Homo sapiens: one gene and its partners. The protein of the gene in region 2 interacts with the protein of the main gene of each other region in a pairwise test. Each region holds a gene or a part of one and is shown on either strand. Other genes may lie near its edges.

Region 1 (3,500 bases), on a different chromosome or scaffold from region 2:
AATGTCCAGAATAGGCAAATCTGTAAAGACTGAAAGTAGATTCGTGGTTGCCTAGAGTTGGGGGATTTGGGAGGGAAATGGAAGGGGGGCTGCTAATGGGTACAGGGTTTCCTTGTGGAGTGATGAAAATGTTTTAAAATTTATTGTTTTGATGAAATATATTTAGTTTGTTTGTTTGGAGACAGAGTCTTGCTCTGTTGCCCAGGCTGGAGGGCAGTGGCATGATCTTGGCTCACTGCAACTTCTGCCTCCCAGGTTCAAGCGATTCTCCTGCCTCAGCCTCCCGAGTAGCCGGAACTACAGGTGCACACTGCCACACCTGGCTAATTTTTTTGTATTTTAGTAGAGACGGGGTTTCACCGTGTTGCCCAGGCTGCTCTCGAACTCCTGAGCTCAGGCAATCCGACCACCTTGGCCTCTCAAAGTGCTAGGATTGCAGGAGTGAGCCACCACGCCCAGCCTGTGAAATATGTTTCAATAAAGCTATTATAAAAAAGGTATCATTTCTATTCTCAATTACTACTTCAAATCTTCTGTCCAAGAAATTCCTTTTTATCCTTGGTAATAACTATCTAACACTATGTTCACCTAGACATAACCATCCTTACTCTAGTGAAAACTTTTGTGTGAATGACCATCTGGTGTTGAGTGTATTTGCTTAAAGATAACATCATATTCATGTAACTTTTACAATTCTAAAAAATATGAATAGCAAATACAAACTTTGACAGAGCAGAAAACCTGTAAGAATTTAAATATACCAACAGTGTGCGACTTTTTTTTTACTGAAAAATAAATCAGAAAAAAATGAGAATGCATGCTTCCTATATTTCATGGGGCTGAAGCAGATATGCTAATATTACATTTTAATAGGGACTTCTTGCAATGCTGCAGTGAACACATTCTCTGTAAAGAATTGCAGGTTACACAATAATATGTTAACGCATTCTGGAAGGGAACTTTTTCTTCTTACCTATTCAGTGCAAATGCATAATGAAACTTCACATGGTGATGGGAGGCCAAATCAAAGGTTGGCAGTTTTTCTAAAGTCTCTACCAGCTTCACAATAGAATCATAGTCCTTTCAAATTAGATGAGAATAGCACAGAATTAAACCATTAGGAGAAAATTCTCACAATAACGTGTCTTTTGACAACCAGATATCTGAATTCAAGAAACACATTAAAAAGACACTAGAATCCACAGAACACTTTGAAGAACCTAGAATAAACAGTTTTTGTTGTTTTTCTTCTAAAAGGTTTAGATCGTATATATAAAAACATTAGAAACATACAGTTACCATGTTGAACAAAAACTAAAAAAGCAAAAGAAACAAAAACACCAAGCATGATAGTGCTCTACTGTCTAAATATGGGTGATTTATTTCCCCATAGAGCCAGATTCCCGGTATGCAGTGTTCTAACAATTTCAGGGAAATAAAAATGTCAAGGACATGAGGCAATGGGTTGAACTTCTGTTACAAGTAGCAACACAGTTTCATGTCACATGAGTAAGCACTCTAGCCACAGGATCCTATGTGCCACAGCCCTCCATGGATGTGAGTCTGTCTTGAGCACATGAAGCCTTTACACAGACCTGAAAGGCTAGGAATGGAAAGGAGAAACCAGATGTCATTTAAATTTTACTATTAAAACCTAAGAGCAAATCCCTAACTTGGAGAGGATTTTATTCCACTTACCCTATTTTTAAAATTTTAAGACATGTCAATAAAAATGATATAACCTGTTAGTGTGTTTTACATTACATATTTTTAAAGTTATTTCTGTAGGTAATCAATTACATATTTTTTCCTTCAGGCGAGTTAGATTCAGCACTATCAATTTCAAGCAATACAATTTCAAGGGATAAAAGGTATGTCCAGAAAGCTCTAAAAATGTCTGCTATTTGCCAAAACAAAGCTTTCACTGACAGGTGTGCCTGAGGCTAACAGTAGAATAGACTGTGTCCACAGGTTCGCTGTGCCAGCAGATTTTTCTTTTTGTTCTTTTGGAGGAAAAAGTCAGGCCTTTACCATACAAGTCTTTCACAATCACTGATGGTTAACTCACATGAGTCTTTTTCATTCATCATAAAATTATAGGATGGAAAGCTTAAGAGAGTCAATAAAAAATTACGTGTAGTAACATGAACTGCTTACCAGCAAACTGAAATTTGAGGTTAATACTCCCTTATCCCTCCAACATGCTACACAACAAAGATTTCACTTTAAACATCTTCTCACCTGGATATCTCTGTAGGAAAGTAACAGATTTATGACAATATCTGCTGTCAAGACTTCGATATTATCTACTCGCTGCCGAATTCTTGCCAACTCAGCTGCCAATTCTTTACCAGTGTATAAATTACGAGCTTTCCTGATGTCATTGAGTATAGATTCCCGGAAGTACTGGCTGGTAAAAACACACACATTTCAAAGAGTTTGACATTAGAAACAATTTCAATGAAAAGCAATAATTTTAATAAAGACATGAATGATATTGCAGCATTAGCTATAAAGCATTTGTAGTTTTCAGTTCATTCAGATGCCTAAATAAATATCTTACATATCTGGCATTATTAAGAAATTTAGAAGCCAATGTATTTCTTTTATTACTCTGCCTTCAGAAAGAATTAAAGGTAAAGGTACTCCATATTAATAAATTTTCCTGCAAAAAACCACTTAAAATGCCAAAACTTTGTTTTCCATTTTACTGTTTCCAGTACAAATTGTTCTAAATAAATTAGATGTACCTATGATTTTTTGTTTGTTTGTTGTTTTTGTTTTTGAGACAGAGTCTCACTCTGTTGCCCAGACTAGAGTATACTGGCATGATCTTGGCTCACTGCAACCTCCATCTCCTGGGTTCAAGCAATTCTCTTGCCTCAGCCTTGTGAGTAGCTGGGATTACAGGTGTGCACCACCACACCTGGCTAATTTTTGTATTTTTGGTAGAGACAGGGTTTCGGCATGTTGGCCAGGCTGGTCTCGAACTCCTGATCTCAAGTGATCTGCCCACCTCGGCCTCCCAAAATGCTGGGATTACAGGCATGAGCCACGGCACTGGCCGTGATGTACCTATGATTTGAACATAATATAACCTTAACTTCCTGACTCAGCCTATCATTTATTAACATAAATAATTGTTCTTCACTGAAAGAACAATTAGAGTTAAGAGTTAATTAAAGTTGAATTGTTCTTGCCCTTACACTAGAAGTCCCTGGACATTTATCCTGGTATTGTTTCTGTACTTGCTTTGTATATATTTTTAGTTCTACCATCACTATAAAGCGGTTAGTAGACTTTTTAATTTTTTGCTGATTTCAAGTTGCTGTTCTGTGAATAAAATGTATTATGTGGCATCTATTTTATCTACTTGGAGGATAATAAACATTTTCCCCCTAGTTCTTAGCTGTATACTGATATCTCAGGAGCACCTGATATCATGCACAAATAAAGATGTAGAATAACACTTTATTGTCATCACCAAATGGCATTATTAA
Region 2 (3,500 bases):
ATGCTTGATCAGATACCTCACAAAAAGATATCCAAATGGCCAATGAATATGCAAAAAGCCTCTTGATTGCAGTAATCATCATCAGGGAGATGCAAATTAAAGCCACTACACACCCACCAAAGTTGCTAAGATGAAAAACTCTCCCTCACTACAAGTGGGAGTATAGAAAACCACTTTGGAAACCAATTTGACAGTATTTTCTAAAATGGAACATATGTATATCCTCTGGCCCAACTCCTACATATACACACAACAGATAACCTATAAACATTTGCCAAAGACACATTAGAATGATGTGGCAGCATTGTTTGTAATAGCCCCAAATTAGAAACCACTCAAATGTGTATCAACAGTAGACTAGATGTTGTGGAGCACTGAACAGAACACTCTGTAACAGTAAGAACTCTCCACAGCTATATAAAATAGTATGAATGGGTCTCCCAAACATAAAGTTGAGCAAAAGAAGCCACACCCAAGAGTACATTCTTTGTGATTCCATTTATATAAAGTATAAAAACAGGCAAAACCAATCTATGCAGCTATAAGTCAGAATAGTAGTTACTCTTGGAGAAAGGAGGGGTAGTTTCTGGAAGGACACACAAGGGAAATGTCAGGGTATTATTAACATGCTGTTTCTTGATCTAGGTGCTAGTTATATTTAAAATTTCACTACACTGAATCATGATATCACAAGTACGGTCATCCCTTGGTATCCATGGGGGATTGCTTCCAGGACCTCCCTAGGATACTAAAATTTGCAGATGTTCCAGTCCCTGATATAAAATGGTATAACATTTGCATATAACCTAAATCATTGCATACTTTAAATCATCTCTATATTACTTATTAATACCTAATACATTGTAAATGCTATGTAAATAGTTGTTACACAGTACTAAACGTTTAGGGAATAATGACAAGAAAAATAAGTCTGTGCATGTTCAGTATGGACAAAATTTTTTTCGAATACTTTAGTTTGGATGCACAGATGGAGAATCTATGACTACAGAGGGCCAGCTGTATACATATATGCACTTTTCTGTAAGTTTATTCTTCAATAAAAAGTTTCAGGTCCAAAATAAGTAAACAAGTTACCTTGTGAAGGGGAGTGAAATTTAGGTAATTTGTCATTTTTTAGCTGAGTGAATCCACATAAAATGCTTATTAGAACAGTGTCTGGCAGGTAAGCACTCCATAAACACTAGCTTTGTATGTAAAGGCTTTCTATTTTCCAAGTTTTCTTTATTAAGCATTATCAACTTTTTTTTTTTTCCTTTTTTTCCCCTAGAGACAGGGTCTCACTGTGTCACCTAGGCTGGCCTGAAACTCCTGGCCTCTGGTGATCCTCTTACCTCAGCCTCCTAAGCAGCTGGTACTACAGGCTCATGCCACCACACTTGGCTGACTTTTATTTTTTTAAGACAAACAAATCATTTAATATTCATTTTTAGGAAGAAAAGTTCATATAATTTCTCATTTCTAGGCACCAACAGAATAAAACTGTAAATGGAATGAAAAATACATCATCTGGACTAAGGGAGAACCGTTTCCATCAGTTACATATTTTAATTCAAACTAACGGTTTAAGCAACACCCAGTAAAGAACAAGAGTAACAACAACAAAAGGCTAGGGCTTGAAGCTTAGATTCTAGAAGGAGGAGACAATAAATAATATACAATACACACAATGGCAGTAGGGGATATAAGGAAAAATAAAACAGGATAAAAAGGATTGGGTAGGTGTTATTTTATGGAAGGTGGTCAAAAAAGGCCACACTGAGAAGGTGAAATTTATGTCAAGGCCTGCAAGAAGTGAGGGACAAGTCAAGTGAATATCTAAGCGAATACTATAAACAAATACAGCAGCAAATGCAAAGGTCTTGAGAAACACACTTGATGCATTAGAGGAATAGTTAGGAATCCAGAGAGCAACTAATACAAAACCACAGAACCACAGATGCTCCACACTATGTGCAGGGCCTTGCAGGCCATTATACTTTGGCTTTTACTTTGAGTAAGATAGGTAGTCTTTGAAAGAATCTGAGCAGAGTTTGACCTCACTTAATGTTTTAAAAGGATCCCCCTAGTTACAGTTTTGAGAATAGAACATAGTGGGTAGTAAGGATGTAAATATGGAGACCAGGCAGCAGGAGGCTACTGTAGGAAGTCAGGCGAAAGATGATGGTGCCCTGGACCTGGGTAGTAGCCATAGAAGTAGTGAGAAGCAGTCAGCCTCTGAAGATAGATAGTGCAAAAGCAGATAAAGCAGAATTTGGTGATCGATTCTAATGTAAGCATGAAAGAAAATAGAAGAATAAAGGAAGACTGCATGGCATTTGGCTTAAGTAACTAGAAGGACAGAGATGCCATTTACTTACAGAGAGCAGACTAGGATGCATAGCAGGAGTTGATTTTGGACAGGTTAAGTTAATGATTCCTTTTGGACACAAGTAGAAATATCAAGGAGGCAGCTGGATATCTTCAGTTTACAGCTGAGGGGAAGGCTATACTAGAGATATAAATGTGGGGGTCACGGGCCTACAGAAGATATTGAAATCTATGAGACTGGGTAGGATTCTGAATATAACCACAGGATGAGAGACTGAGTGCTGGGCATTCCAAGCCTACTGCTGATGGCAGCTGCTTAACTATCCATGGTATTTGCTTTGACCACTCTGATTACAACATCAGTCAAAAGGTCATAAACACTGCTGTCTAAAAGGAAACTTGAGAGGGATAAATACTGAAAGAGGATGCTTCCCACCACCAGCAGACATTCATTGTCTTCTCTACTGCCACAGCCTCTAATCCTCCCCTCTACCTCCACCCAGTCATGTCCACCAACTGCAAGTCTCCAGCTGCAAAATGAGAAATCAGGGAGAAAATGCAAAAGGAAGACTTAAAAGACTGAGACTTTTCTGAACATGGTATCACTTGGTCTATGCATGCCTGGCATGGTAATTATACACATCTGCTTATCTCCTGTGCTAGCTCACAGGAATTTTGACAACTAGTTGTTCACAAGTACTTAACATACATTTGCTAAATGACATACAAAAAAATTCAAGATTCTAGTTAGGGCCGGGCATGGTATCTCACACCTGTAATCCCAGCACTTTGGGAGACTGAGGTGGGTGGATCACTTGGGTCTAGGAGTTCAAGACCAGCCTGGGTAACATGGCGAAACCCCATCTCTACAAAAAGTACAAAAATTAGCAGGGCATATTGGTGCACACTAGCTGCTGGGGAGGCTGTGGTGGGAGGATCATCTGAGCTCAGGGAAGCTGAGGCTGCAGTAGGCCATGATTGTGCCACTGTCCTCCAGCCTGGGTGACAGCAAAAATCTTTCTCAGAGAAAAAAAAAGATTCTAGTTAGGGGTGAACCACCAATGGGGTAATCTCACCATCAGATGCCTGGTTTGGGCCTGGTTTAGCAACTGTCTCAACTCCTTCAGGAGACAGCTGGTGATGCAAGGACTCTCCAGGAACCCAATATGTGA
Region 3 (3,500 bases), on a different chromosome or scaffold from region 2:
AAGACCTTTTATTTTACAGATTGCCAATATATCCCTTATTAACATTGCTAAAAGTTGTAATTTCAGACATAAATGTTTATTAGTGTCTACACACAGTGCTAATTATCACTCACTCACAGAGCCAGATGCTGACTGTGCAGTTTTGTGGCTCTGCGCTCACCCCATTTACATTGCATATTCGTTGGCATGCTTCACTGGCAATAGTTTGTGTAATTGGGGTATTACATCTTTGACATCTGGATAACAGAAATTCAATTTCCAGGAAGCTGCTATTTGTTTGGTTTTGCTTCTGCCTTGGGTGGGATAGAGGATTAATGTGCTGTCTTATAATGTCCCTTCACCTCTGTGGCCCAGTTGCTAATCCTGCCATGACAAAATTAAATTAAATCTACAGTCAAAAAGCATAAGGAAAATAAAAGTGTGACTGTCTGCCTAACCAGCTCTTGATAGTGCTAGTTATCATCAAGCAGCTCCTCATTTTCCTGACTTTGTGCTCCTTTCACACCAGCATTTTGGGACAGGGGGAACAGCATGCTTTCCTCTTACCATCCTTGTTCCCAGCTCACGTCAGGGATGAGCAGAGCTAAAACAGCATTTCTGAGACTTTCCAGCAAGTGTAGCTGCATGATGGGTGGGTAGGTAGCCACAAACATTGCCACCTTTTCCATGTGCAGTGTTGGTGCAAATACTGTACAGGAAAGACTTTGGATGTGCAGTTTTTTATTTGCACACAATCAGCCAAAAATGAAACCACGTAAGATTTTGCCTCTAAGAGTGAAGTACCCATAAGGTCAGGGTGGAGAGTAGATGGTGGCGTTGGGCCTCAACCTTGTCCATCTTGGACCTCTGCAATCCCAGGTAGCAGGGTGAGGGCACAGCACTGCACAGCAAGGAAGCAGAACATGAGAGAGGTCAGAGCGAGAACGATTACAAGCAAAGCCACAATTACCCCATCAAGGGGGACTTCAGGTAGCAGGACTGCTGCTCAGACCCGGTGTGGGTCAGCCTTCAAACGAAGCTCTCGCCAGGATCTCTCTGGTTTTGCTTTGAGGGATAGAAAGGGTGGGTCGGGATGCATTGGGAAGAAGTCAAATATTAATATATACTTTAAGAGGAAAAATAGGAGGGAAATGTCAGCATTTCTTACATGAGCGATCATTGATAGCACATAGATCTTTCTGCTGAGGGAAAGAATATCACTGGGGCCAGCACTGCTCCCAGTACCTGTTTACTGTTAAGAGAGCTAGGAGCCAAAAGGTTAATAATCAAGTGAAATGCTGTGGCCCAGAAAGAGAATATTCTTGGATTCTAGTCTTTCCAGTCCCCTAAACTTGGTCAGTTGGAATTCTTTTTTTTTTTTTTTTTTTTTTGAGACGGAGGTTCACTCTTTTTATCCAGGCTGGAGTGCAATGGCATGATCTCGGCTCACTGCAACCCCTGCCTCCCAGGTTCAGGCGATTCTCCTGCCTCAGCCTCCTGAGTAGCTGGGATTACAAGCACCTGCCACCACGCTTGGCTAATTTTTTGTATTTTTAGTAGAGACAGAGTTTTACCATGTTGGCCAGGCTGGTCTCAAACTCCTGACCTCAGGTGATCCACCTGCCTCAGCCTCCCAAAGTGCTGGGATTACAGGCGTGAGCCACCGTGCCTGGTTGGTCAGCTGGAATTTTGTATTATCAAAGTACCACTCTATATAGCCATTCGAAATAACGAATTTACCCTTTAGTAGAAAATTTACGTTCACCATACAAAGGGAACATCATGTCCTTGATTTAGTTCTCCAGCAAGGCAGGCTTTCCCGCACTTTCTGTTGTGTACTACTAGAAAAGTGGTAAGGTCACTACGAAGGAAGTGAATTGTAAGGATAAGAGAGGGGAAGCTGAAGAGCAACAGGATGCTAGTGCCCAGGATTCAGTAAGCTGGAAACTCCCAGAGATGATAGACGTTGTTGCTTTTCTTCTTCCTAGTCCAAGTTGAGGAAGATGCAAGAATTCCAATGAAGGACCAGGCTTGAGATAGATACGCTTTCAAAGTGGTTGCTCCAGAAGGCCTTCAACATCAAGAGACAAAAGATTGAACAGCCTGGGAGTGTGCTGTGGGTTATTTTCAATCTTTTGCTCATTCTTGGGTCATCATGTAGTTGGTTCCCAAATAACATTTTTATTTTGTGATCTCTAGGTCAGTTAAGAAAAAATAACAGAAATTGTCACAGCAACATGATTTCTGGAGCAATTGAGAATAGTTACTGATGGCATCTGAGAGTAGGAATTTTTTGTTGACAGTGTTATAGTTTATAGTTTTATAGTTACACTTTTCAAAACATAAAGATTTCAATTATGTTTATTTTATAAATTGCTAAAGCCTGTCCATAAAGATGTAGAATTATATGGGAAGCTTATGACATCCAAGGGGGTTTGGTACCAAAATACTAGAACTCTTTCCCCTATAACAAAGTACTGACACACTGTCCCAGGGATGGTCTATAGGATTTTCTACATTCAAACATATGTGTTCCCTTTAATAGTATCTGCATCTATAAGATCAAAGTTTATGTTCTAGGTGAAAAAGAGTCTTCTAGAATGTGGCAGAGGTTCCCACATCAAGTCTACCTCTCTGGAACATGTTTAGGCTGTTAACGAACGTAGTGTATCTCACATGGTAGGGTAGCTCAGTAGTGTAAATGGCTTGGCCTCGTGCTTTAGGAATTACTCACATATTTTTAATTGGATAATAGGGTCAGAAGACGTTACTTTACCCTGTGGACATTGACTTTCTCAAGCTGGCTGTGATGGGACTACAGTGAAGATTTAAGCACTGTTTGAAAGGAAACAGTTCTCTTAAATCAGTTCAGCCAGTGTCTTTATAGAAGATACTCTGAACTCAGCACTTTTCTGGAATGGGAGTGGGGTCAGAGATAGTCACAGAAATGGATAGGACAGGGACCTTGTTCTCAGGGATTCAGATCCAGCTGGGGAGGAGACAGGACAAATTCAGGAAACGGAGCAGTATTCAGCAATCGTAAGAGCTACAGTTGTTTGAGCACTTAACTGTGTGCAAGGCAGCACACTGAGCACTTTACATGAAAGACCTGATTTGCTCTTTGCAGCATGTCTGTATGAGTTACCGTCATCCCCATTTTGTAGATGAGCCTAGAGATGTCGAGGTGACCTGCCCAAGGTCTCTCAAGTAGGAAGTGCCACAGGTAGGGTTCCAGTGCAGGTCTGTCTGAGCTTTGAACACTCCACTTAACCGCCTGTCTGTGAACGGTAATTAAATGACAAATGTGAATGATCAGGGCAACAGCAAATGCAGAGTTGGAAGGGGTAGAGGGGAGGGCTCTGCAAAGCAGAGATGTTGAACTACAGGAAAGATTCGCTCCTGTATTTCTCCTCCCTGGAGAAGATTCCAGGTGGGAAGGGTGAGGGAGCCGCCAATAAGCATCATTATAGCTCGACCATGAGTGTTGCACTTATGGTTTAGAAAGTGCTTTCACATCTGTC

What was found. The genes of interacting proteins can lie anywhere in the genome.
Region 1: the proteins of ZNF622 (region 2) and MAP3K5 interact in binary tests that used the Homo sapiens proteins (3 or more experiments, as listed by UniProt).
Region 3: the proteins of ZNF622 (region 2) and BEND7 interact in binary tests that used the Homo sapiens proteins (3 or more experiments, as listed by UniProt).

Annotation. Positions count from the first base shown.
Region 1 is NC_000006.12:136,694,978-136,698,477, forward strand, and holds part of MAP3K5 (mitogen-activated protein kinase kinase kinase 5), read right to left. Parts: intron 2,411-3,500; coding exon 2,242-2,410; intron 1,081-2,241; coding exon 974-1,080; intron 1-973. UniProt on the Homo sapiens protein: Serine/threonine kinase which acts as an essential component of the MAP kinase signal transduction pathway. Plays an important role in the cascades of cellular responses evoked by changes in the environment.
Region 2 is NC_000005.10:16,459,301-16,462,800, forward strand, and holds part of ZNF622 (cytoplasmic 60S subunit biogenesis factor ZNF622), read right to left. Parts: intron 1-3,500. UniProt on the Homo sapiens protein: Pre-60S-associated cytoplasmic factor involved in the cytoplasmic maturation of the 60S subunit.
Region 3 is NC_000010.11:13,522,515-13,526,014, reverse strand, and holds part of BEND7 (BEN domain-containing protein 7), read left to right. Parts: intron 1-3,500.